Homo sapiens: one gene and its partner. The protein of the gene in region 1 interacts with the protein of each later gene in a pairwise test. Each region holds a gene or a part of one and is shown in the gene's direction. Other genes may lie near its edges.

Evidence for each region. Proteins that work in one complex are often made in the same cells at the same time.
Region 2: the proteins of SLC35E3 (region 1) and TMEM234 interact in binary tests that used the Homo sapiens proteins (3 or more experiments, as listed by UniProt).

The regions. Positions count from the first base shown.
Region 1 is NC_000012.12:68,779,528-68,782,080, forward strand, and holds the end of SLC35E3 (solute carrier family 35 member E3), read left to right. Parts: 3' UTR 1-1,941; downstream 1,942-2,553. UniProt on the Homo sapiens protein: Putative transporter.
Region 2 is NC_000001.11:32,215,709-32,219,464, reverse strand, and holds the end of TMEM234 (transmembrane protein 234 isoform a precursor), read left to right. Parts: intron 1-1,887; exon of another isoform or gene 1,888-2,028; intron 2,029-2,113; coding exon 2,114-2,206; intron 2,207-2,340; coding exon of another isoform or gene 2,341-2,498; exon of another isoform or gene 2,499-2,517; coding exon 2,518-2,612; 3' UTR 2,613-2,947; coding exon of another isoform or gene 2,948-3,055; 3' UTR 3,056-3,265; downstream 3,266-3,756. Other genes in the region: DCDC2B (doublecortin domain-containing protein 2B), read right to left, coding at 3,568-3,663.

The DNA.
Region 1 (2,553 bases):
CCAGAAAGGATATAAGCATGGTTTGAGAAGGAAAAAAAGCTTAACAAGGGGGAATTGAGGAAGCCATTTGCAAAACTTCACAGGAAAGTTAAATGAATGAATGAATAAAATGTGATTAATAAATATGGGGGCCAGGTACAGTGGCCTGCATCTGTAATCCCAGTGTTTTGGGAGGCCAAGGCAGGAGGTGCACTTGAGGCCAGGAGTTCAAGACCTGAGCAACACAGCAAGACCCCCGTCTCTATAAAAAATTTTATAAAATTAGCCGGGCATGGTGGTAGACACCTGTAGTCCCAGCTACTTGGGAAGATGAGGCAGAGGATTGCCTGAGCCCAGGAGTTTGAGGTTATAGTGAGCCATGACTGTGCCACTGCACTCCAGCCTGGGCAACAAAGTGAGACCCTGACTCTAAAAGTAAAATTAAATTAAATTAAAAATAAGTGGATAAATATGGGTTATGCTGTGAAGCATAGAGGGAGGGATGAAGAGGGACATTTTAAGCCACTTCTCTGGCCCCAGTTTCTAACATTATTTCTAAAATGCAGGATATCTGGTTATCCCAAACCAGTTATATTTTTATTTAAATTTGCTCAAAATTTTTATTTTTAAATCTTAACAATTTCTAAAATCACACTTTTTAATTTATTTTGTATTTTTTTGAGACAGGGTCTTACTTTGTCACCCAGGCTGGAGTGCAGGGGCACAAACATGGCTCACTGCAGCCTCGACCTCCCAGCCTCAAGTGATACTCCCGCCTCAGCCTCCCAAGTAGCTGGGACTACAGGCATGCACCACCACACCTGGCTAATTTTTTTATATTTTGTTTGTAGAGATGGGGTTTCACCATGTTGCCCTGTCTAGTCTTGAAACCTTGAGCTCAAGAGATCTGCCCACCTTGGCCTCTCAAAGTGCTGGGATTACAGGCGTGAGCCGTCCTGCCTGGCCTAGTCACACTTTTTTTTTTTTTTTTTTTTTTGGAGACAGAGTTTCACTCTTGTTGCCCAGGCTGGAGTGCAATGGCATGATCTGGACTCACCGCAACCTCCGCCTCCTGGGTTCAAGCGATTCTCCTGCCTCAGCCACCCAAGTAGCTGGGATTATAGGCATGCACCACTATGCCCGGCTAATTTTGTATTTTTAGTAGAGACAGGGCTTCTCCATGATGGTCAGGCTGGTCTCGAACTCCTGACCTCAGGTGATCTGCCCGCCTCGGCCTCCCAGTGTTGGGATTATAGGCATGAGCCACCGCGCCCAGCTAGTCACGCTTTTTAGTCAAGATTTTTAAAAATGTCTGCATGCTTTTCTGAGAGCCTTACCTCTCTTGTGATTTGAAGCATTTTCTCCACCAGGCCTAAGGCTGAAGGAATGTAGTTTGCTGCCCTTCAGTCTATGACAAGGAGGTCTGTTTCCTCCAACGCCTGCCTTTTAGACAGAGTGTTGATTCACAGGGAACAGAGGCAGACCTGGGGCTGACACTGAATGAATGCTACTCACAGCAGTAAGGGGAAAAGTGGGAAAGTCTTGTTTATGCTGTGGCTGATGTGGATGTCTTTGGGGAAGAAAAATTCAGGATGAGTTTATTGAGAGCATTATTTTTGAAAGTATAAGATTTGTGATTGTAATATAAACTTAAATCACTTTGGGAATGAATTTAAAAAATCTATGTGACACAAATTAATCATCATTCTCATTGTAAATTTGGCAAAGTATTTGTAATTAGGAATATCTGTCATACTGGCACTGGGCAAATTATTCTGAATGTTCCCATGCTGAAGATTCTCTCAAAAAGGGAAAAAACAAGATCCTTTGTTTGTATAAGTACAATCAGTTTGCTGAATAAAACCTTTATAGCTACAATTATAACAGGATTGTTTCTACATTTTAGCTTGGAGATCCCATGACTACTCTGTTTTGCTAATAATAAACCAATACAGTGCTACAGAGATGTTTCTTTCATTAATGTGTTGCCTTCCCTTGCCTTGCCTTGCCTTGCCCTGCCTTGCCCTGCCTTGCCCTGCCTTGCCCTGTCTTGCCTTGCCTTGCCTTGCTTTCTTTTTTTGAGACAGGGTCTCACTCCATTGCCCAAAATGGGATGCAGTGGCATGATCTCGGTTCACTGCAATCTCTACCTCCCAGGCTCAAGTGATCCTGCCACCTCAACCTTCCAAGTAGCTGGGACCACAGGCATGCGCCACCATGCCAGGTTAATTTTTTGTATTTTTTTTTGGTAGAGATGGGGTTTCTCCATGTTGCCTAGGCTCATCTTGAACTCCTGAGCTCAGGCGATCTGCCTGCCTCGGCCTCCCAAAGTGCTGGGATTATAGGAGTGAATCACCGTACCCGGCCTCATTACTATGTTTTCTAAAGTTGTTTCATTCCTACCTTTCTCCTCGAAGCCCCTCAGCTTCAAATATTCAACAAACCATGATTCTGACCTCTATGCTTTCTTTATTCTCTTCGTAGCTCTGTGAGAGCAAAAAACTTACCTGTCCCCAGTGGGTAAAACAGTGTTGCACACAGTTTAGACATTGTCTTTATCATCTCTAAGCTGAT
Region 2 (3,756 bases), on another chromosome or scaffold:
GCCTTGACCTCACCACTGCACTCCAGCCTGAGCAACAGAGAGAGACCCTGTCTCAAAACAACAACAACAAAAACGAAAAACAACCAAAAAAGAAAGCAGCTCTTTGTAAGTGGGGTTGTATCAATTTCTTAGATGGGTAATGCCTCCATGCTGGGGCCTCCCAGGGGATGAGGAGCAGGACAGTTTGCTCCTTTGCCTCACACAGGCGAGCCCTGGGAGTGCTGGGAAAGAATTTGCTGAGGAGCCAGTGTGAACATCTGGTCTGCAGTTGAGTCTTGTTACCATGGATAACTCAGCTGATTCGTCCATTGGTCTTTTTTATGTGTATGTGGTGCTTTTTTTTTTTTTTTTTGAGACGGCATTTCGCTCTTGTTGCCCAAGCTGGAGTGCAATGGTGCGATCTTGGCTCACTGCAACCTCCGCCTCCCAGGTTCAAGTGACTCTCCTTCCTTAGCCTCCCCACTAGCTGGGATTATGGGCATGTGCCACCACGCCTGGCTAATTTTGTTCTTTTGTTTTTGTTTTTTGAGATGGAGCCTTGCTGTGTCACCCAGGCTGGAGTGCAGTGGTGCAATCTCTGGTCACTGCAACCTCTGCCTACCAGGTTCAAGCAATTCTCCTGCCTCGGCCTCCCAAGTAGCTGGGACTACAGGCATGCACCACCATGCCTGGCTAATTTTTGTATTTTTAGTAGAGACGGGGTTTCACAATGTTGGCCAGGCTGGTCTTGAACTCCTGACCTCAAATGATCCACCCGCCTCGGCCTCCCAAAGTGCTGGGATTACAGGCGTGAGCCACCACACCCAGCCTAATTTTGTATTTTCAGTAGAGACGGGGTTTCTCCATGTTGGTCACGCTGGTCTCTAACTCCCAACCTCAGGTGATCCGCCCGTCTCAGCCTTCCAAAATGTTGGGATTACAGGCATGAGCCACTGCGCCTGGCTGTGGCTCTTTTTTTGATGTGATAAGAACACTTAACAGGAGATCTACCCTCAACAAATTTTAAGTTAACTCCATTAGTCTTTTTCTTTTTTTTTTGAGACAGAGTTTCACTCTTGTTTCTCAGGCTGGAGTACAGTGGTGTGATCTTGGCTCAGTGCAACCTCTGCCTCCTGGGTTCAAGCGATTCTCCTGTCTCAGCCTCCTGAGTAGCTGGGATTACAGGCGTCCGCCACTATGCCTGGCTAATTTTTGGTATTTTTAGTAGAGACGGGGTTTCACCATGTTGGCCAAGCTGGTCTTGAACTCCTGACCTCAGGTGATCCGCCCGCCTCAGCCTCCCAAAGTGCTGGGATTACAGGCGTGAGCCACCCTGCACCCAGCCAACTCCATTACTCTTTTTCAAGTTTGCTTATTGGCAGTCAGCCCCTTGGAACTTCAAAATTAAGGAACAGATCCTGGGCTATGATGCCCTCTACCCACACCACAGGTCCAGCCCAATGTCCTGAACAGGTCCTGCTCCTTCCTTCTGACACTTTTTATTTTTAACTCCATAAGGCCTGAGCTTGGGCTGAAACAGAAACAAAATGTGCTTCATCTGATGTTCTGCTCTGTCTATATCCACAGTTTAATAACGGCGCAGGCTTTGGAGTCAGGCAAGCCTTGGTTTAAATCCTCAACTTGCCTTAGTTTATGTGACTTCTTTGAGCCTTTGTTTCTTTTACGCAAAATGGTGATAATCCCCTTCTTGCAGTGTTGTGAAAACTGAGATATGTACACAAAGCACCTAGGCCATGGTATGTGCTTAATAAATGGTGGCTGTGCTTGGTGTTACCTGACTCTCTACTCATCCTTTGGGATTTGGGTGCCTGCCTGTCCGTCCAGATGTCCTTGAGATCTCACGAGTTCTCTTTGAGTGCAAAGACCTCATTCTCATTATCAAACCAGGCTGGTCCCAGACCTCAGAGTTCAGGTCTTCATGCTGGAATCCTGGGAAGCACTGAACGTGGAGTCAGGAGATGTGGGTTTGAGTCCTGAGATTTGCTGTGACTTCATCTGGAAGATGGGGTTTTGATACCTTTTTTAAAGGTATGAAATGATGATGATGGAAGTGTTTTGTGCCTAGAAAGGCATTTGTTGCATCTCAGGCATTCTTTTCATTCTGACCACCCAGATCTGACCCTGGCTGTGCCCATCTGTAACTCTCTGGCTATCATCTTCACACTGATTGTTGGGAAGGCCCTTGGAGAAGATATTGGTGGAAAACGTAAGTTAGACTACTGCGAGTGCGGGACGCAGCTCTGTGGATCTCGACATACCTGTGTTAGTTCCTTCCCAGAACCCATCTCCCCAGAGTGGGTGAGGACACGGCCTTTTCCCATCCTGCCCTTTCCTCTGCAGCTGTTTTGCTTCCTTGTGGCCATCAGAGTTCCCTTCCCCTGGACAGTCTGGAGAAAGACAGAGGCTGGGGTTTGGGATTGAAGACCAGACCCCATCTGAGCCCTTCCTCCAGCCCTGTACCAGCTCCTACTGGCATGGCTGAGCTCAGACCCTCCTGATTTCTGCCTATTATCCCAGGAGCAGTTGCTGGCATGGTGCTCACCGTGATAGGAATTTCACTCTGCATCACAAGCTCAGTGAGTAAGACCCAGGGGCAACAGTCTACCCTTTGAGTGGGCCGAACCCACTTCCAGCTCTGCTGCCTCCAGGAAGCCCCTGGGCCATGAAGTGCTGGCAGTGAGCGGATGGACCTAGCACTTCCCCTCTCTGGCCTTAGCTTCCTCCTCTCTTATGGGGATAACAGCTACCTCATGGATCACAATAAGAGAACAAGAGTGAAAGAGTTTTGTAACCTTCAAGTGCTGTTCAGCTGCGGGGATTTAGCACAGGAGACTCTACGCTCACCCTCAGCAACCTTTCTGCCCCAGCAGCTCTCTTCCTGCTAACATCTCAGGCTCCCAGCCCAGCCACCATTACTGTGGCCTGATCTGGACTATCATGGTGGCAGGTTCCATGGACTGCAGAACTCCAGCTGCATGGAAAGGGCCAGCTGCAGACTTTGAGCCAGAAATGCAAACGGGAGGCCTCTGGGACTCAGTCAGAGCGCTTTGGCTGAATGAGGGGTGGAACCGAGGGAAGAAGGTGCGTCGGAGTGGCAGATGCAGGAAATGAGCTGTCTATTAGCCTTGCCTGCCCCACCCATGAGGTAGGCAGAAATCCTCACTGCCAGCCCCTCTTAAACAGGTAGAGAGCTGTGAGCCCCAGCCCCACCTGACTCCAGCACACCTGGCGAGTAGTAGCTGTCAATAAATCTATGGTAAACAGACAAGAGGTTAGTAAGTATTCTTTTATTGTGACAAACCCTCTCCCAGGCTTAGTCAGCTACTCCTTTCTCTGGCCAGAGAATCCCATAAGGAAATAGCCCCCACAGCCAGGGCTGCTCTGCTCAGAGGAAGGGAAGGCTGGGCTGTGGGTTTAGGAGCAGGAGAACGGGGAGGGCTGAGGAGGCCGCAGTGTACCCTGTGAGCCCAGCGGAGGTGCTGGCTCCTGAGGAACAAGCTGCTGGAGGCTAAGGACAAAAGGTGGCCAGAGTAGTGGTCCCCAGTTGCCCTCTGGAGCTGCTGGCTCTCAAGATGGCAGAGCTGGGGCTGAGGCTGAGATAGCAGCCCCAGCCCCAGGCTGGTTTTCCAGGGACAAGGCCTCTTCCACTATCTGTGCTGCCCTCTGCAGGAGGTGGAAGGCCATACAGAATGGAGCCGTGAGTATGGCCAGCCTCCAGCTCTCAGCCAGGAGGTCCCCAACCCCAAGGAAGGAAGA